4 linked regions of the Homo sapiens genome follow. The protein of the gene in region 1 interacts with the protein of each later gene in a biochemical or structural test. Each region holds a gene or a part of one and is shown in the gene's direction. Other genes may lie near its edges.

Region 1 (5,601 bases):
TTCAGACATAGGAGCTCCTTCCATGCAGAAGGAATATAGATTTTAGAAATTCACATTTTAAAAGCCATCTCCAATTTTTTGGGACTAATTTTTACCTGGAGGAATTGCAGTAAGTAGTTTACTTAATAGATAGACTGATTATTAGTATTTTAAATTCCCAAAGATAAATCTTTATCCTTCTAAACCAACAAAACAGAGAGTTAATTAAAAACAAAGTGACAACAACAACCCAACTAGGAGTAGTCAAAGGGGAAGAGTGATGGTAAAACGTAATTGGTTCATTGGCATAGAAATGGGATAAACACGCCGGGTGCGGTAGCTCACGCCTGTAATCCCAACACTTTGGGAGGCCGAGGTGGGTGGATCATGAGGTCAGGAGATCGAGACCATCCTGGCCAACATGGTGAAACCCCGTATCTACTAAAATACAAAAAAACAAAAAAACAAAAAACAAAACAAAAAAATTGCCGGGCATGGTGGCACGCGCCTGTACTCCCAGCTACTCGGGAGGCTGAGGCAGGGGAATCGCTTGAACCCGGGAGGCAGAGGTTGTAGTGAGCCGAGATCGCGCCATTGCACTCCAGCCTGGCAACAGAGTGAGACTCCGTCTAAAGGAAAAAAAAAAAAAAAAAAGAAAAAGGAGAAAGAAATGGGATAAAGAAAATTCTTTTTCTTTCTTGAGACAAGGTTCACTGTGTCACCCAGGCTAGAGTGTAGTGGCACAATCACGGCTCACTGCAGCCTCAACCTCCCAGGCTCAGGTGATTCTCCCACCTTAGCCTCCCAAGTAGCTGGGACTACAGGCACCTGTGACCACGCCTGGCTAATGTTTGTACTTTTTGTAGAGATGGGGTTTCACCATGTTGGCCAGGCTGGTCTCGAACTCCTGGCCTCAAGCCATCCTCCCGCCTTGGCCTCCCAAAGTGCTGGGATTACAGGCATGAGCCATCGCGCCCGGCCAGAAAATTACATCATTAGGCTTGTACATGGAGGAGTTAGTAATGCCTGAAATTTTTCCTCTTTGTAGAATTCAGGGTCAATCCTGTTGATCCTGTGTTTTTTTAAGGACCAAATCACCATCGTCTCCTGAGGATAACTCGACAGACACAATTAATTCATTAATGTAGATATTATCTTTCTTTTGATGGTCACAGGAGAAGTGCCTTGAATTGAAGCTTTATCTCTTCCATTGTCACCATCACTAGGCAGGTGAGGCTGACAGGACCGCGTGGCTTAAGGCAACGCCTCGGGAGGGAGCAAAAATGCATCCACTGTGGAGATGAGGTTTCGGTTGCCTCCATTCTTTAAATAGCGCAAACCCTCACAATGTCAAAAGAATCATATTTGAATTCGAACTGCAAGTAAGGAAATCGAAGTATACTAGAATTGATTTCCAGCCTGAAGGCGGATGCTGAATTCAGACCAGCAGTGACACTCCAGGATTTCCACGGTAGTTCATTAAAGGAGGAGAATCTGGGACTAAACAGACAGAGTCTACACCCGCTTATCCTGCACCAAAAAACGCCGAGATGTTCATCGGCATCGCGTTAGTCACATTAGCAGCAGCAATCGCATTATCAAAAACTGCAACACGCATGTAAATAATAGCTACTTTTCCACCACGTGTCGTCGGCCGGCAGTGGATGCCCCCTGTAGGATCCCTATAAGATGCCTTACAGTTCCCCACGGACATCTGCCCAGGCGACTGGGAGTCCCAGGCCCCACCCCACCCTCCAAACCCCTTCTTTGGCGTTCAATACCCCGCGCTCACCGCGGTCTCTTGCTGCCCCCTGCCAGGCCCCTAGCGTCGGGCTGCGAAGGGCTGAAGTACCGCCACGAGGGGGCGCAGGACCAACGACATCACCTCTGCGCGCGACCCGAGGCCGGAAGTTAGTCTTTTCCACTTCCGCTCCTCCTAGCCGCTCCGGACCCCAGAGGCGGAAGTAAAAGCGAACTACAGTGGATGGGTGCAGTTCAGGGTGAGATTGGGAAGGTGGTGAGGCTGTGCTTTCCTTTCTTTTTGTTAAGAAGTGGGTGTGGGTGACTGCTGTACAGTGCAGCCCTTTGCAGATTTGTCTTTGGAGGAGGAAGAGGGATGGAAAGAGCCTTCGGTGTGGAATTACCTTGGTTTTGAGTTAAGAAAGACCCACCTGGGTTCGAACCCTAATGCTTCAGCTAGCGAAGGCAGGCTAGTATGGGAGCTCGGCGCTGTTTCAGATTTTGTAATTTTAAGGCTTATGCCTACCTTTTAAATTGTTGTGGGGAGTAAAGCGAGACAATATATATGAAGCACTTAGCTTTGGTACAAAACGTATTCGTGATTCCGCTACCTTTTCCCATCATATGTAGGCATGTACTTGCCGTTTTCTTTTCTGTATGTCTGAGAAATGTTGTTTGCAAGAGGTAATGCATCTCACGAGAACATAATGCAACGAGAACGTTAGCTGGGATCGATCTCTTATTTTGTATTAGGAAGGCCTGAAATATTTTGCCTTTTTTTTGTGTGTGTGTGTCATTTCCAGAGATAGCTGTTCTCCAGCCTTTCTGGAGGGATGCAGAGCCTTTCCTTAGGACAAACAAGGTGAGAAATGCATGTAAAGATCTCCAAACTTAGCTTGCTGTATCAAAAGAAGACCAGCTGGAATGTGGTATTTTAGGGCCAGTGATTAGTTATTTCCATTAACAGCCTTTTTAACAGGCCAGTTGTGGGGCAGAGGCGAACGTAAATCTTTTTTTAGACCCCTCATACTACAAGCATAGAAATTTTCAGTGTTTGTTAAGTTTGAACATTAGCCCTTTGGATAATGGTTTTGGTTAATTAAAAAGTCAATTTGAGAAATAGATCGAAGTCAATTTTTGAATAGGTACCATTTTTGAAATTTGTACGTGAGGAAAGTTGCTAACTTTCTTGTATTAGGCTATTTAGATGTTCATTTACCCTACTAGATATTATGAGTATTTTGAATGGAGATCCGTTGCTAAGAGTAAAGCATCATGGAGAATTTTGAAGTGTGACTTTTTTGGTACTAGAAACCGAAAAATAGATAAAGATAATTTGTATTTTCCATTGTTTTTCACACCAAAGGCCAGTTTTACTTGTTTAAATTTTTTCATCTGACTGCAAAGTAACACATATTCATTAAATAAAGTCCCAGTATTTCAGAAGTAGTACATAGCCTCTAATAATCTTTCAGAAATAAGTGTCATTCCACTTTCCCCCTCTGTATATATTAACGTCCCCCTCCCCGCCTTTAATATACATGGCATTATCCATACTGTTAAGCAGTTTGTCATGTAGAATATCTGACATCTTTTGATTGCAGTAGATCGGCCTTTATTTTTGGCACCTTTATAGTATATTGCATAGATGTACCACAATTTATTAATTATTCTATTGGTGGCCATTTGGGTTTCTTCTTCTTTGTTATAGCAAATAATGTTATGATGGTCATCCTTTTTCTTTCTTTCTTTTTCTTCTATTTTCTTTTTTTATGAGACAGATTCTTGCTCTGTTGCCCAGACTGGAGTGCAGTGGTGCAATCTCAGCTCACTACAACCTCCGCCTCCCAGGTTTAAGCAGTTATTGTGCCTTAGCCACCTGAGTAGCTGGGATTAGAGACATATATCACCATGCCTGGCTAATTTTAGTATTTTTAGTAGAGATGGGGTTTCGTCATGTTGGCCAGGCTGATCTCAAACTCCTGGCCAACATCTCAAAGTGGTGAGATTATAGGTGTGAAGCCACTGTGCTTGGCCTAGTCATCCTTTTTCATAACAAACACATATTGTCTTTTTTTCTTTTTGAGATGGGCTCACTCTGTCATCCAGGCTGGGGTGCAGTGGCTAGATTATGGCTCACTGCAGTCTGGATCTCCTGGGCTCAAGCAGTCCTCCTACCTCAGCCTTCTGAGCAGCTGGGACTATAGGTGTGTGCTGTTACAGTTGGCTAATGTTTTGATTTTTTGTAGAATAAGGGTCTCACTTTGTTGTCCAGGCTGGTCTCAAACTCCTGGGTTTAAGCAATCCTCCCACCTTGGCTTTCCAAAATGCTGGCATTACAGGTGTGAGCCGCTGCCCCTGGCCCTTTTTTCCCCCTTTGGATAATCTCCAAGAAGTGGAAATGCTGAATTAAAGGCTATGAACATTTAAAATTGTGGCAGCTGGTGCCAAATTCTGGTCCATTAACAATATTTGAGAATTTCCTCTGTTTCCTCATATGTTCATTAACAGTCAATATTATTAATTACTGTTTCTAAGTTTAGCTGAGACCACACATGTCATTTTTAGAGTAAATTTACTGCATTTTAGTATTGTAATCAAGACCAAATTTCTAGGTTTAGCTGAGACCACACATGTCATTTTTAGATGTCATTTTTAGAGTAAATTTATTGCATTTTAGTATTGTAATCAAGACCAAATTTCAGTTGCCAGTTGTAAGTCCATTTCAGCTCTTGTTTTCTATAAATAGAAAGCTTAGTTTTAGATTCCTTAGTAATAAATTATCATAAAACAAATGGTTGATTTCAGTGGTTAGTATTTTAAAGTAAGTTAAGGATTTGAGGGAAGATTATATTTGAATGGGACCTTGTCCTATGGATAGGCATCAGGAGGATGGGCCTTTCTAAAAGAAAGAACAGCTTAAGCAAAGGTAGGGAGACAGGAATGGGCAAGGATGTTTGGGATCAGAGGTTTGAGAGGCGATAGTGCTAGGTATTGAGGTGGTACAATAGAAGAGATAGCTAGAAAGGTAGTTAGAAGTAGATGGTAAGGTAGTTAGCTAACTGAAAAGGTAGCTAGAAAAAGATCACTTTGAAGATTTTGTTTTTTCGGGGAGAGCTACAGAAGGTCTTTAATCAGAGAATGAGGGACATAATCACATCATTTTACAAATGTCAGTATGGTGGCAGTTTCGAGTGATGGATGTCAGAGAAGCACATCAGGTGGCTGTTACAGGCTGGGTAAAAGAGAATGAAGACTTGTAACAGAATGAGAATTACAAAGAGTAGCGAGGTTGGATTTCAGAGAGATGCCAAAGAAGTTGAGTCTACGTGATTTGATGACTGGAGTTGAGGAAGAGGAAGAAAGCAAAGCTCACTTTTAGATTTTTATCACAAATGACTCTTAGATAGTGATTGTGATAATGATATCTTTAGTCAGAAGAGGGCAAATTTGGGGACTGGGAAAGATACTCAAGTTTGGGGCATGTTAAGTTTGTGTGGAAGAAACTTCCATGGAGGATGAGTTATACACAAGACATGAAATTTACTTGTGACAGATTTAGAAGAAACGTTTATAGATTTGTTACTTTTTGTTAGGAATTTTGGCTTACATTTTCACCTATTTTTAGTTTGTTATTAATAGAATTTCTGTTGAACATTCTGTGGCTTATTCAGCCTGTTTACCATGATGCTAATAGTCCTAAGAAAGTGCACTGTCTAGTAGTCTTCACACTTTTTTGATTGTGTACATTGTCAATAGAAATATGCCTACAATATATGTACATTTGTTTATTGATTATATATGTCTTACAGTACAATCATATTGTTTATATTATAAAACATATGTAGAAAGAATTTTTCAAAGGCTAAGACAAATACAAAT
Region 2 (5,133 bases), on another chromosome or scaffold:
TAAGTCTTGACAGAATGGATGCCAGCACCACTAGCTTCTGATTAGACAGATGTGTTTTGTGCTGCCATCCCTCCCGGCCACAGGAGCCTGGACTCTCCTGCCTCTGGCTGAGTCACTTGATTAAAACACAGGGCTTTGAGGCTGAGGGCATTAGCTGGATCCCAGGCAAGCTAAGTTCCTCAGTCAAATCTATTGCCTGACAATTCCCATTCCCTTTGCCAGTGATCTGTGTTGGGAGGAAGGCTGAGCTGTATTGTGTTAGATTTCTTAGGGCAGATTCTTTACCACTGTTGGTTTTAGACTAGCATTTGAGTTTTATAAGTAAAAGGTTTAGGTTTTCAGTTTTTTTGTTTTTTTTTTTTTGTAGAGATGGGATCTCACTGTGTTGCTCAGGCTGGTCTTGAACTCCTGGGCTCAAGCAGTCTTCCCACCTTGGCCACCCAAAACACTGGGGTTACAGGCATGAGCCACCACACTCGGCCCTTTTTCTTTTAGTTATAGTCTAGGGTTGTTTCAGTTATGCCATTTTGGGACACGTTCAGGGTTTTCATCCTGAGACCTTTGCTATCCCCAAGACTGCAACTATTGTCATAGCATGTAATTCCCTCCATGTGTCTATAAAATGAGAATGATCAGATTTGTTTGACAAGATTGTTTAGAGGATTAAATGAGGTCCTGTATTTAATGAAAACCAGCAAAAGCAGATTGAGATGCTGTGCTGGGTGGTTGACCAAAGACTTACCAGCCAAGGACTCACGACTTCATTCCTTTCTGGTGCTACTGTTGATTTAGCTACAATTTCTACATGACGTCTTCAAGGTAAGTTATGAATAGTTGGAGCCACCGGCATTCAAATGCAAATATGATAGATCTACTGCTGTTATGGCACCTAGAGGTAGTAACTGGTTATGTAGGATTCATTTTATTCAGTTATTTTAAAGGTATTTTACCTGATCTGGTATTTTTGGTTGCTAATGTAACATACTATATCACGTCTAATTGCTTCAGACTGAAAAACAGTCTGAAGCAAGTGAATGATGAAGATGTCTGACATTTATTGAGCACTTACTATGTACCAGGCAGTATTCCAAGCACTATACCTACATCAATTTATTTAATCCTCACAATAATCTATTATTGATACTATTTTTGGTACTATGATTGTTTCTATTTTATGATGAGGAAATTGAGGCCCATATAATTTAAATAAGTTGCCCAAGGTGACACAGCCAATAAGAACAACAACAGAGATTTGAATCCAGGCAGTTTGACTCCAGAGCCCATGCCTTGGATCTTTGGAAGATAATCTGATATAATTGTACGCTATCTGTACCCTACTTGTATTCTGCTCTACTGTTCATGAAATTACGTACGAAGCTGCAAACTGAGTTCTAGATGCAGAATGAGGGTACATAGCTTGCGATAGTGTTTTGACTACACAGGATAACCCTTGAAAATGGGCTTGTTGCAAAAATTTAGAAAATTTTGTTACACAGAGATAGTAATAATTAATAAAGTTTAAGTATTTCAGGAAATATTAGGGGGTGACACCAGACTACAAAGTGATGAGTCAGCAACTTAGTATACTATTTAAGAATCAACACTACCTGGAATGTAGTAACTGAAGTGTTGTGTTTAGGAAGTTGAATACAGGTAAATCACATAATTTATAGTCCTTTACTTAGAAAAGCAAAAATAGTATCTTTCTTTTCCATTCCTTTTAGGGATGCTACAAATAACAACAACATAATAAACAGAATGTCTGTTATCTATCTAGTGCATACTCTGTGTCAGTCCCTTTGCTATGTCCTTGTTCCTCTAATTGGCAGGACTACTCTCTAAAGTAGGTGATAATTATCCACTTTACTGATGAGGAAATGGAAGCACAGACAAGTCCTTTGCCCAAGGTCACAGAGGTGGTAAATGGCCAAACAAACAATTGATCCCAGGTTACTTTGACTGGAAAACCTGTACTCTTTTCACAACCCAGTATTGCCTCTTTGGGGGGAGTTCTCTAAAGGAAAGATGTTATATTCATGCTTACTGAATCCTGTGTTAAGACATATGTTTGTCACTAGTCTTGAAACAGATTATAAATATTCAAAACTAGGACTGTTCCAGAAAACCTAGGATATTTCTGTTACCATAGAGATGTAATGATGGGCTTAACATAATCTTCCAGGAAAAACAACTGGGTTCTCCCAGCGCTCCATGGCCTAAGGAGTCAGCCACTTATTCCTGCAGTTATGAAGCAGCACCACCCAGGACTAGAGCAACTGAAATACTATGGAGAACTGGCAAGAAGACCTTAATTACAGTTTATTTTGGGGCATCACAACTTGATAAGTGAGAGGGAATATACTGAAGAACTTGAGTAGAAATGAAGTTGATTTTCATGTTGTGCATGATATGAGGATTTTATAAAGATAAAGAATTTTTATATGAGTTGTCCTAGCAGGACCACTTAGATATGACACATTTTTACAGTTTTATAATATGCATTCTTGAACCTTTTTGAAATAGTATCATACTACCTTTCTGCAAATGTATTCACTGTGTTCTTGCCAGATTCCTAGCAACACCTTGCCATCTGATGGTTATAGCAGATGATTTTGAGGTGCAATCATAGGTGGAAGGTCAGAAGCCAGAGTTATGAAGCATAGTGGCCAACAAGGTGATGGGAGAGGGGTCATGGTTAAGAAGATGTTTCTGGCTAGTGTCCATGTTTCCCATAGAGGCCACTTTGTAGTGGAAATAAACTTGGCTTTGGAATAAGATAAGCTTGAATTTAAACATGAATGCACTTACTAGTTGTGTTATAAAGCAACTAATTTAACTGTGGTTAGCAGCTTTTGAGTTTCTTTGGGATAGGACTCTCAACTTCCTTTTCTGCAAAAATTGCATTCATTTTCTCACAAGATGGGGTAATAAATATATTAAAGCCTCTGACTTTGTGTCTTGCATAGAGTCACTATTCAATAAATGTCAGTTCTATTCATTTTCCTTTTCTTCCTTTCCTTTCTCTCTTCCCTTCTCTTTCTTTCCTCTCTTTCCTTCTCTTTCCTTCCCTTCCTCTTGGCTATTGAAGGTGACAATGGTGAAGTAGTACTTACAGTACAGTGTGGTAAGTGTTCTAGTTAGAAATGCATACAGCTTATTGTGAGATTGCTGAGAGAGCAACTGCCAGGGAAAGTAGGAAGGTGACAGATAAGCTAGACCTATGGCTGAGTAGGAGTTTGCTAGGTTAAGAAGAGACTGAGGGCTGGGTGCATTGGCTCATGCCTGTAATCCTAGCACTTTGGGAGGCTGGGCCTGGTGGTGGGCACCTGTAATTCCAGCTACTTGGGAGGCTGAGGCAGGAGAATTGCTTGAACCTGGGAGGCAGAGGTTGCAGTGAGCTGAGATCATGCCACTGCACTCCAGCCTGGGTGACAGAGCAAGGCTCCGGCTCACAAAAAAAAAAAAAAAAAGAAAAGAAAAAGAAGAAAAGAGAGTGTGGTGGGGAGGAAACGTTGAAGGATGTTTCAAGTTCAAAGCCATGGAGGCAGGGAGAGAAGGGATACCAGGAGAATGGGGAGGCCAGGCACGGTGGCCCATGCCTGTATTCCCAGCACTTTGGGAGCCTGAGGCGTGTGGATCACAAGGTCATGAGTTCAAGACCAGCCTGGCTAACATAGTAAAACCCCATCTCTACTAAAAATACAAAAACTTAGCCGGGCATGGTGGTGGGTGCCTGTAATCCCAGCTACTCTGGAGGCTGAGGCAGGAGTATCGCTTGAACCTGGGAGGTGGAGTTTGCAGTGAGCCGAGATCGCGCCATTGCACTCCAGCGACAGTGTAAGACTCCATCTGAAAAAAAAAAAAAAAAGAACGGGGAAGAGACTACTGAGTTGGCACACAGGACAGGTAAATTATGGTTGGTGGCGCTGCTAATGTAGTGGAGTTTCACCAAAGACCAAAGGTGAAATGAGGCTACAATCTGACCCTTTATCTTGGAGGCTGCCCTTTATCTTTGAAGTTTCTCAATATTGTAAGTGAGATAATGAAATTTCTCTTTAGGATAATAACACTGCTCACAGTATGAAAGATGGGTTTGGGGTTGATTGGCATACTTGTTTGCACTTGTGTGTACAGAGGAGATAACATATATTAAAGCTTTTTTGGTAAAAGGTAATGGTACTTGTAGAGATGGTGCTGCTATTCAAGACTTCTATAGGAGAGTACATAATGTGTTGGAAAATGGTGACTCCATATGCTAATTTATGGACTGGATCACATTGGAGCCAAATTGTTCCAAAAATATAAATATGTCTTACCTTGAGTTAAGCATGTTTACCACTTTTCAACAAAGGACCAGGTGTGTTTCTGGCAAAATGATTGAAGCTTGAATCCAGAAAAAAAAAGTTTAAGGCCCCTTTTTGTATTTCCAAAATTGAGTTTAAGGTTCTAGGGATAGTAGATACCTAATGCATGCTGAATTTGGTTAGTGCTTTGTAGAATTTCTTGTGCTTAGCATGCACTATTGTGGTTAGCAGCTGTTGAGTTTCTTAGAGGGAGGAGCAGAGAGGCTCAGACTACAAAACTATCATCTATGGGAAATGGCAAGAAGCTAGGTGGCCCTTCTCCCTAAGCAGTCAGGATCAGACCCAGGTACACACAGATGTGTGTTTCTGTGTTTCTAGCCCTGTGTTTATGTTTTCCGGATAGTTGCCTGCTTTATCTATGCTGGAGGGAAAACCCGACATTACCTGGGTTCCTTGGGGAAAGCCACTGGGGAGATTAGCCTTGGTTACTAGAGGTGCCTCAATGTGAAGACAGTCACCTGCATCTGCACTTGAACTATTAATAATGTGTGGCCAGGAGCCAAGGGTGTGGAGGAGACGTGGCTCTACCGGTCAGATTCTGCAGGGGACAGATGTGACCCTGTTGTGGAACTGAGCACAGGTATTTGCTTGGTGTGTGAGGAAGTGAGGAGGGAGTGGATGTGTTTGTTTTTTTCCTTCTCTGGCATACTTTTTCCAAGTCCACTCTCTCAGCAGCCAGGAACTAAAAGCAAGTCTTGGGCTGACATTCAGTGCATAGGGAGTAAGTTGTACCTTTTAAATTCCTGGGGGCCAGGCATAGTGGCTCATT
Region 3 (5,183 bases), on another chromosome or scaffold:
AGATATTCTGGACTCTCTCATTACTCTGGGTAGTGGTTAAGATGCATTGCCATCCTGCTTCCTGCAGGTTCTCCTTCCACCATTGTTTCCTCAAACATGTTGCCCTCTTTCTTTCCTTCTCTGTTTAGGATGAAGGATACTAGCCGCAAGAACAACATGTTTGCACAGTTTCGGAAAAATGAGCGAGACAAGCAGAAACTCATTGACACCGTGGCCAAGCAGCTCCGAGGACTCATCAGCAGCCACCACTCATGAAGGGTGACCCCGGACCCACAGAGGCGACCTGCTGCAGCCTCTGTGTCAGTCTGGGGTCCAGCCCCAGCTGACCCTGCATTTGTGCATTCTTCTTCAAAGAGAGCATATGTATTTTTTTATTAACCCCTGTGCAGTATTCACATAACATTTCCCTATAGTAAAAGAGGCACAAGAATAAGCAAGTACATGAGATGTTGCTAGGCTGGGACTCAGGGGAAGTTATTACTACACTATCTGTGTTATCTTAGAGATGGTGGTATCATCAATTCCACAGTGATGAACCACCTTTCATCCATGGCTCTAAAGCTTAGGTCTGGGGCTTAGGAACCATAAAAAGTGGGTATCTGGCGCTGGGAGGTAGAGTGAGTAAGCAAAAGGATACTAAAATATGTCCTGTTCACTCTTGGATGCCCATTCACCACATAGATGAGGCTGATTCTTCTCAATACAAGGAAAGGGCATGGCAAACATTACTATTTAGTACACTAAGGGCAGCTCTGGAGGGTCATCTCCTCAGTCTGCTGACTTTCACTGGCTTGTGAACAAGCATGGCATATGGCAAGATGACAGCTTCATTCCAATCCCCCAAGAATGGCGGTTTCTTTAGCCTGATCTAACCCCAGGCTTTTATTGCAATTTTTTCTAGGGCAGGATACAGCTAAGTAGACAGCAGTAATAATTGGATCCCATGTTTAACTGCATATTGCCCCAGCTCTAGGAGTGTTGAGTCTCAACTCGAAGAGTTTTTCTGGATCTTGAAAGCCAGTTTTCATGGAATCAGAGACCCAATCCCTTCCCTGTTCATCTCATTTCCTTCACTTACAGTCAGAGCACTTGGTTCAGGACATAAATCAACAGTTACTTCCATAGGCCTTCACAGGGCGTTTCAGACTTAGCCTCCTCCAGTAATGCCATTGAAATAGTTCAGATTTCGGAAGCCTAAAAATGGCCTTTACCTTACCCTTAGGTGTAACCTGAGGATTAGTTGGGATTGTTCCTTTATGTTTTAAAACCAGCTTTTTGGTTATCATCTTTAAGGAAATGTCACCAGCTCTGCACTGTGGGGGCAGCCATGCCTGGACTGGATGCCTCTAGGGATGGAGACATTGTTACCATAAAGTCGACAGAGCCAACCATGGCTTGTGGCTTGTTGCCTCTGGCCCAACTGTCCTTCACTAAATAATATCCTAGATATTATTTTGTTGCTCAAGCCCAAGGTTCCCACCCTCTTTTGAGATCCCCAAAGCCATCTTTGGCCTTGTCTAAGAAAGATTGCCTATAATCCTGTCCTCCAAACTCTAAAGCCTGGAGCAGCTTAGCGTGGAGGCTGCACTCATTGACCCAGATGGACTCCTGAGACTTAACGCAAGGGCTTTGCTATGAGGTCAGTCGGGGGAAACTGTACTTTAAGACACTTCAGAAAGATGCTACTGGCTAGTAGCAGAAAGATGGCTAGTGGCAAGAGTATAATTGTGCATCACCAAACAATGACAAATAAGCCACACAGGCATTTCCAGCTTGGATTGATGGGAGGAGAGACTCATCAAACAGAATTCTTCACTACCTTTGTCAGCTACTGAGTTGCTTCTGGGGAGGGAAGTACTTCCTTGCCCCTCCCCAACCCCCCTACCTCACCATATCCTATCATATCTTGATAGTCATGGGGAAGAGGATGTGCACACAGACATACAAATTTCCTCAAAGCTGGAGAGACCAGGCTACATGTGAGCTCATAGATGCTGCTGAGGCTCATCCTGAGGGCTGGATGGTTGGCCAGGGTTTCAGAATGAGGGTAAGGGATGAGCACTGCCACCCAGAACTTGATAAGCCAAGAGAAGGCAGGAGCCAAAATGGCATCGCCAAGCTCTCATCTTTGTTGAAACAAGTGAGAAACGATTATATTAATCTGAAGTTCTATTGCTTGAGAAGAGTTCAAAACACTTCTCTTTGCTAGTACCCAGTTTGCAGCAAGATCTCTTCAGCTTTAAGTGCTGAGAGACTTTGAAGTGGAAATGGAGAGATGTGTAAGCATGGCACAGTGTTTGTCTTTTTAGAGGATCATCATTGCTGGTCTGGTCTCAAACCTCTGCCTTGGAAGAACTGTGCTATACAGGAAAAAGTGAACAAGGTGGAGGAATAGGGGTTATTCTGCACAGAAGTCCCATGAAAGGAAAAGCTTATTCAAGCTCAAGACATAAAGATGGACCCTTTGATATATCTTCTCTCCATTCTTAGTCTGCCTTCACCTTATCTAACAAAAAACAACATGCAGCTACTGAGTTGTATGTAGAGACATACTCTTGGTGGGCCAGGGAAGGTAAAAACAGGGACCAGCAATGTCAAGTTTTTGAACTAGAAAAGTGGGATGTTTTTAGTTTTGTCTATAACCTGTAGCTGGGCCAACCCTTGAGAGGACTTGTGCAAAGCATGTGTGCCCAGACCCATCAGACTCCTCAGATATGGCCTCAAATACCTAGAGATGTAGAAGTACCGTGGAGGGCCTCAATAAGAGGGCAAGCACACAGATGGCTAGAAGCCTGTATGGCTTCTGGTCAGGATGAACCCTTGGCCAAGTTCTTGAGGAAACCAGGTCTATATTCCTGAAGGGACAGTTCAGTTTGGGACTCTATTAGGTTTCAGTAGTAATATAGGCTGCTTGCATCATTTTAACATTCATAGGGAAAATCTCTTTGAGCAGGCTATAAATGAAGCTGTTGCAGGTAGGGAAGAACAGGACCTGAAAATGGGAACCAGGAAGTGAGATCCTGTTGGCAAAGGGAATGTAGAGCTTCCAGGGTGCATTGCCCACTGTTCTCATTGCATACCAGTCCTCCAAGTCAGTCTAGCCTTACTGTACACTTGACAAGTGCTTACTCAGCAAGTCCCAGACCCACGGCCTTTTATCTCCCAAGACTGGCTTTGGCCATGACCTTCCTCATCAGGCCTCTGAGCACACTCTCTAGGAACTGCTGCAGAAATTCCCCTACCTTAGCCTCCCTTCTCCCAGGACTCCTCTCTTGACTGCAATTGCCTCTTCTTCTTCTTCTTCTTCTTCCTTTTTGTTTTTTTTTTTTTTGCCTGCATTCACAATTACTTTTCACAAAGGTGTTGGAAATGGCATTTTTATTTTACACAGATAGTTGCACATATATAGAGAAAATTAGGAAAGTCCATTTTTAACTCTAAAGGGAACTTTTTTCTCTAAAACTTACTTGTAAAGCTACTGATACAGATGGGCCGCATGGTTAGGGGAAAGCTCCTCTGTGAAAAGAGCATGTTTATTCCTCTTGTACATTTTCCTCTTTTAACTGCTATTAAACAAGAAAGCCTACATACCTGTTTCAAAAGCCACGGTGTTGTCTCATGGGTATTTTGTTCTTCCATCCTTTTTGCACAGTGCAGCTGTGGTTGGTGAACTGGATGGCTGACATTGCATCCCCACTCAGCTGGACTGAGGACTAGAGCAGGCAAGAGCCTAGTGGGGAAGAGAAAGCCTACCTTCCACACAAGGCAAGGAGCCGTACTGTGGCCTTGGAAACATCCCTAACCCCTGGGTTACGTTTTTTCCTGCTTATGCAGCTAACACTGGCATCATCATCAAGAAGAACTTTTTGAAATGCTTGAGTTATGTGGAACACTGGGCTAGGCAACTTAGAACGCAATGTTGAACACTAGCCCTGCCAAGGAAAGGCTCCCAGTCAAGATGGAGTGTTGTAGGATTATCCAGAACAAAGCCAGGCTGGAGAAAAGGGAGAGATGAGCCTATTTTAGACTCAGTGCAGGAGGGGTACAGTCATCCTGGCCTAGTGAAGGAAAGGGTCTGGTTAGGAAAGACAGCTCAGAAGAAGCAGAATGTTAATTAGCTGGGCCTTGAAGGAATGCAAGTCAAATTTTGTTAAGTCATAGGAATGAGTATTTTTGGTGCAGACCATATTAGAGTACAATGTTGGCATGAGCCTGGTATGTTCTGGGATGTAATGAAGAACCTCCTAGGCACATCTGGAACCATGGTAAGTAAGACCAGCAATGCCAGTGTAGCAACACCCAGCCTGCTTGCCCTCCAGGCTAGCACACAAGCAATGGGAATAGACTAGAAACAATTTTCTCCAGTAAGAAATCTGACTACTGCAACTGGGCTTTCATGCCCGAGACCGGGGCTTTGATCTCTGCAATGCCACTTACTAGCCCCTGACCTTGACAATTACTAAACGAGCTCCCTAAATATCATCATCCTCATCCATGAAAGCAGACTGGTAGTCTCCAATTTACAGGTTTGTTGTGAAGTGTAAATGAGCTGTGGAAGGTCAAAATGCTTAGCCAGTATCAAACTGAGCAATAGCACATGCAATATTTAAGGCCTTTTCCTCCCTACCTTCCAATTCCACAACATGCCTCATGGCTGAGCGCTGGACAAAAGTGTCCAGGGCTTCTCTGCCTCCTGACATCCTCTCCCCAAGTCCACTTCAGGATTGGTGATAGCCATCCCCGCCAAGCACCTGTATATGAAACAGAGGGACACGCCTTTCAAATCAGCCAGCCGCCTGGCTCTGAGGACAGCCTATCCTTAACACTACATGGAATCTTCTCTACTCTTACTTTGGTGCCAAAACTTACACCTTCTTCTATTGGGAGTTCTTAACCAGGTGTCCAAGAACCCTTGCAGATGTGTGTGTGTGTGTGTGTGTTTGCATGCATGTGTGCATGCCATCCATTTTTTTCTGGAAAGAAGGTTCATGGCTTTCATCAATGTCTATGAAAGATTCATGACTAAAGTACTGAATAATAACCAAATCCCTTCGGACATGTAGCTCTCCCCATGGGGGAAAGCCAGAAGCTCTAAGCAGTGACTCTTCTCCCTGCCTCATAGAGCTCTGACAGATTTTTCAAGCCCTGCTGGTCTGCCACCCACCTTCTCCAGGAGCCTCCCC
Region 4 (5,133 bases), on another chromosome or scaffold:
ACATCTCACAAAAGGCTTTTAAGTCAAGACAACAATTAAAATCTTGAAATAGGAAAATCTGGGATTGGTCATTTTTTTATCTCAGTTTATTCTGCCAACAACATAAACATTGCAAAAGGAACATTTGGTTAGAAACTTGTAATGATTGTGAGTCTTGAAAAAATGTTTCTATTTTTCTGAAGTTTAAGTAATTTAAATATTTCACAGCTGAAGTCCAAATTCATTCTCTGTCTTAAGGACTATTTTTAAATAAAATGGTATTATGTTGTTATACCTATAAAAATAAAGTGAATTTGTCCATTTTACCAAGGACATTTGGATTTATGGCATTTTAGTATAATCTAGTTATATTAACTTACATTAAGTATTAAATATTTTTAAGAAAACACATTAATGCTTTTTAATAAAACTTCAGATTTGGTTTATTTATCCAAATGGTTATAATAATATATTTAATAGTCTTTTTTAAAATCAGTTTCCTATTCAAAAAATGATATATGACACATGAGTTAATCACTTAAAATTGTAATTTGGAACTTTTTGCTTCAGTTATAAAACCGCATAGCAAATATGTGTTCTTTTTATAAATTGACATCTACCATCATCCATCCAAACACCTTATAATTATTAGTTTGGAACACTTTCTCTTTCCTTTGTGTATGTCAGTACCATTACAGTAAGGACAAAATAAATGGAGAGAGATTTATGTTTAACCTGAGCCTGTATTACCTTGATTAATGGAGCATAGATTCTATTGATTGCAACCATAAACACATACGTTAGTATTTTCTTACTGATGAAAATGCTTCAAATGAACACCCCATCGTTTCTCTCAAAAGCTATATTCCTTTATAGCATCTCTCGTTTATGATTCCTGATTGTAGCAAGTTCAGACCTAGCTTGATGTAACACTTTTCCTGATATTTTCTAAGCTCTTTTTGAAGGGAAGGGCAGTGTGGAGAAATGTACTGATAGATTTAAGAGCAGACGGCAGCAAATAATGAGTATCTTGAAACTTGAGATTGGGGAAGTTTTCTGTATGGCCAGAAAAATTCCATAACCAACAAGGAATTGTACAAGAAAACCCTCCCAGATTAAAACTGAATGTAAATAGAAAGAAATGACCCTGACTGACAGGAAAGAAAATTTAATTCAAGTAACTCAAACATAGTACTCTGACTGAATACCTTCCAAGGGATATAGTTGAAAGATAAAATTAACTGCCAAAAAAGTAAGTCCTGAATTTAGTATGTTTTTTGGTGGTATTGGTGTGGTATTTTTGAAAGTAAATGAGTATATTTTCACCAATTTCATAGAGGAGGCATTGATGTGCAGAAATGTTGAAGTATCACGTAGTTAAATTTTTCTGTTCTTTGTTAATCACATATTTAATGTTGTGTCTAAGAAAATGGTTCCAAGACCCATGTCATTTCTTTCCCCTATATTTTTTCTAAGAGGTTTGTTAGTTATTTTTATGTGTAAGTATTTTATTTAAAATATTTTTTGTATATGATTCAAGGAGAGGATCCAGCTTTATCAGTGTAGACATGCAGTTTTCACCATGTTTTTTTTTTTTTTTTTGAAGAGATTATCTTTTCTCTATCATGTGCTCATGGCAACTTTGTGGAAGATCATTTAATCATATATAGAAGAGTTCATTTCTGTGCCGTATTCTGTTCTGTTATCTGTTTTTCTGTCTTTGTGTCAGTACCACATTGTTTTTGTTATTGTAGCTTTTAATATGTTTTGAAATCAGGAAGTATAATGCCTCCTCTTTTTCGTGAGTGCTTGGCTAGTTATAGTTCATAATCAAATTTAAAAATTTTAAGCAATAGTTCTGTAAAAAAAAATCCTGTGCTATTGGGATTTTTATAGAAATTATATTGAATTTGTTCACAATGTAGGTTGTATTGACATCTTAATAAAATTAAATTATTTGATCCTTGACCCCTCCCCCAAAAAAAGGAATTAAATGAATAAATTGTAGCTGGGAACCATATTCTTTTTGTGGGAAGAGGGAAATACAAATATAAATTGAGGAAAAGAGAAGAAGAATACTGTAGAGTTGGATTGAAGTGGAGATGTTGGTATGAGCCCATGATTTAAAGAAAGTAAGTGTGTGAGCAGTGTGCATTGTGAGGACCTAGAAGCAGTGACACCCCTAGCAGTGAGTACACCTAATGCACACGTTTTGGTTTTTAAGTTCACTTTTCCATGAAAAGGAAACAGGCTTGCTCTTTGGAGAAATACCTGATTTCAGGGCTGAGACTAGGAAAGTGGAACGTGAGCCTAGAGCATCTTATACTAGAAACTAAGGAAGTGCTCAAAAACTGATGGGGATACGTTAGAAGTACTCAAGATCCAGCTTGCGGGGCCTGCCAGTTAGGGAAAACTTGAGTCATCAAAAGGAATAAGGGTAATAGATCTTCATACATTGCATTTGTTAAAAAGAAATTTATGTATCTATATTGACTTTTAAAATAGTGAGAGCTGGCCAGGTGCGGTGGCTCACGCCTGTAATCCCAGAACTTTGGGAGGCCAAGGCGGGTGGATCACAAAGTCAGGAGTTCAAGATCAGCTTGGCCAACATAGTGAAACCCCATCTCTACTAAAAATACAAAAATTAGCCGGGCGTGGTGCCATGCGCCTGTAATTCCAGCTACTCAGGAGCCTGAGGCAGGAGAATCGTTGGAACCTGGGAGGCTGAGGTTGCAGTGAGCTGAGATCACGCCACTGCACTCCAGCCTGGGCAACAGAGCAAGACTGTCTCAAAAAAAAAAAAGTTGGAGAAAGGAGATAGGAAAGCTTTATTATTACAGAAAAATATTAATTAGTACAAGTGCAAATGACACAAGTAATAGAGGGAGAAAATCACTCTTCTACATCCACCAGTATATAAATGTTTCAGGCAAGAATCATTAATAGATGCCAAGTATATTCGGTAAATGGTCATGGGGACAGGATATTCACACAGTCTCAGAGTCACACTCTGCAGATTACTTATTAATTTAAAAAGGGAAAACATACTTTACAGTTGAAAAATCTGGCAATACCACCCTAACCAAATGATCAAACTTAATAATATCACTGAAAAATGACAAACTCATTTTGCTTCCCGGGATTATAGTATTATGCTAGAAATGTTTAACCTGAATCTGATCATTTGGAAACAACCAAACAAAGCCAGATTATGGGACACTCTACAAAACATCAAATTGTCAACATCATGAAAGACAAAAAAAAAGTGGGGGAGCTGCTCTAGAATAAAGGAGATTAAAGGTACCTGACAACTAAATGCAACATGTGATCCTTGATTACACCCCCTATCCTGTATATCCCTATACAGGAAAAGGAGTAATTGGTAAATTTGAATGTGGGTTGTGTAACAGATAATATTAGCATTAGATTCTTGAGTGTGAGTATTGTGCCAGAGAATGTTTTGATTCTTAGGATGTACCTGGCAAAGATTCATATCTGCCTGCAGCTCACTTTCAGATGGCTTGGGGAAAAAAGTGTGTGTTGGGAGAGAGAAGAGATGGAGAGAGCGAGCACAAATGTGCCAAAATGTTGCTTGAAAACAGACAGGTACGCTTAGGATATGTTTGCCAGGCGTCTTTCTTTTATAATGCCTGTTTGTTGTTGCCATTGTTTGTGACTGTAGAAGAATAGTTGCTCATTGCTTATCATTTGGAATATGGAAAAGTATCATCCTTAATTTTACCTGTAGAGATTACTTAATAAAGAATTAAATTGTGATTACACTATGTATAATTTTCTTTCTTCTACTTTTGCTAATATGTTGTAAGTATTTTTTCACATAATTGAGTATCTTTGGAAACATGATACTTAAGCACTTCAGAATTTTTCTTCATATATTCAGCCATTCACTTTTTGAACATTTGGATTCTTTTCAGATTTCCCTTAATTTACTATCACTGTAATGAGCATCCATGTTCTTAACTTACCTGCTTCTCCTTTTTATTTCCCGAAGGTATATAACTATTTGGCAACATAACATAAAAAGCTAGTAGTAGTATTATATTTATTTTGTAACGGCACATATGTTTTATTACCTAGAATTATGATGACAATTTCAATGTAAATGGACCTGGAGAAGGAGTAAAGGTTGATCCAGAAGATACTAACTTAAATCAAGACAGTGCCAAAGAATTGGAAGATAGTCCCCAGGAAAATGTCAGTGTCACAGAGATCATTAAACCATGTGATGATCCAAAAAGTGAAGCTAAAAGGTAAGTCAAAGTTGCATATTATTTGTAAATTACTGAATATTGATAGTAAGGATGTAGCTTTTCATATATCAAATAAAATCTTCTTTCCCATGACTGACCAGGTAATTTAGATGTATCTGTACATATTTATGTATAGATACACACACACATATGTATACAGATGAAGAGCGTTGAGAAGAGGATGCTAGAGGAATGTGCCCACACACATCTCAGCAGCATGGCCAAAATCAGAAAGATGTCACTTTGATCCAGTTCTTGTTTACCTTATCCTGCTGTGGCGCTGATTTTGTCGTGGATCATTAACACTTGACACTCACATGAGAACAAGACTCCTGCTGCGTCCCTGGAGTGTCACTAAGCAAATCTCCATGCTCACGACAGCAGCCTGTGTTGGGCCCCACCATGTTGTGAGGACACATGGCAGCAGCTGGGGCCCTTCCTGCTCAGAGGAGCCCTGGACTCTTGGTGCTGCACAAGGCCATGGTGTGGACTAGGAGGAGGTCTCACCCAAGGGAGGTAGCCAGTCCTGTTCTCTCCTTCCTCCTCTTGTCTGACTTTCTTTTCCCCATCCTCCTCGGTTCCTCTAGAACAGAGAATCATTTCTTATTTCTTGAGGAAAGATCTGATAGTGAGGAGCTTCAAGTTTCTGTCATTACAGAACCCTGAAAAGAATTAAAGTGAGAGAGCAAAGTGGGAGCATGACGTGAAAATGCTAACACTGGAGCAACAGTGATGGGGTGGGGAGTGTGTGTACTTCGGAGTTTAAGGCACTTAGTAGTAGGAAGGAGGAAACAGATGTGGGTGAGACCTACAGTATGACTCTGGCTATAGAAAAAGGTATATAAAGAACTACACAAACTGGTAATGTTGAAGCTTTGAAGAA

The links.
Region 2: the proteins of MTERF1 (region 1) and SYTL2 form a complex in vitro, tested with the Homo sapiens proteins (one large-scale study listed by BioGRID).
Region 3: the proteins of MTERF1 (region 1) and EXOC6B form a complex in vitro, tested with the Homo sapiens proteins (one large-scale study listed by BioGRID).
Region 4: the proteins of MTERF1 (region 1) and DNAJC21 form a complex in vitro, tested with the Homo sapiens proteins (one large-scale study listed by BioGRID).

What each region holds. Positions count from the first base shown.
Region 1 is NC_000007.14:91,877,035-91,882,635, reverse strand, and holds the start of MTERF1 (transcription termination factor 1, mitochondrial isoform 1 precursor), read left to right. Parts: upstream 1-1,933; 5' UTR 1,934-1,979; exon of another isoform or gene 1,980-1,996; intron 1,997-2,522; 5' UTR 2,523-2,552; coding exon 2,553-2,581; intron 2,582-5,601. UniProt on the Homo sapiens protein: Transcription termination factor. Binds to a 28 bp region within the tRNA(Leu(uur)) gene at a position immediately adjacent to and downstream of the 16S rRNA gene; this region comprises a tridecamer sequence critical for directing accurate termination.
Region 2 is NC_000011.10:85,800,558-85,805,690, reverse strand, and holds part of SYTL2 (synaptotagmin-like protein 2), read left to right. Parts: intron 1-5,133.
Region 3 is NC_000002.12:72,174,407-72,179,589, reverse strand, and holds the end of EXOC6B (exocyst complex component 6B), read left to right. Parts: intron 1-128; coding exon 129-255; 3' UTR 256-3,606; downstream 3,607-5,183. UniProt on the Homo sapiens protein: Component of the exocyst complex involved in the docking of exocytic vesicles with fusion sites on the plasma membrane.
Region 4 is NC_000005.10:34,946,093-34,951,225, forward strand, and holds part of DNAJC21 (dnaJ homolog subfamily C member 21), read left to right. Parts: intron 1-3,450; coding exon of another isoform or gene 3,451-3,585; intron 3,586-4,077; coding exon 4,078-4,250; intron 4,251-4,351; coding exon of another isoform or gene 4,352-4,355; exon of another isoform or gene 4,356-5,133. UniProt on the Homo sapiens protein: May act as a co-chaperone for HSP70. May play a role in ribosomal RNA (rRNA) biogenesis, possibly in the maturation of the 60S subunit. Binds the precursor 45S rRNA.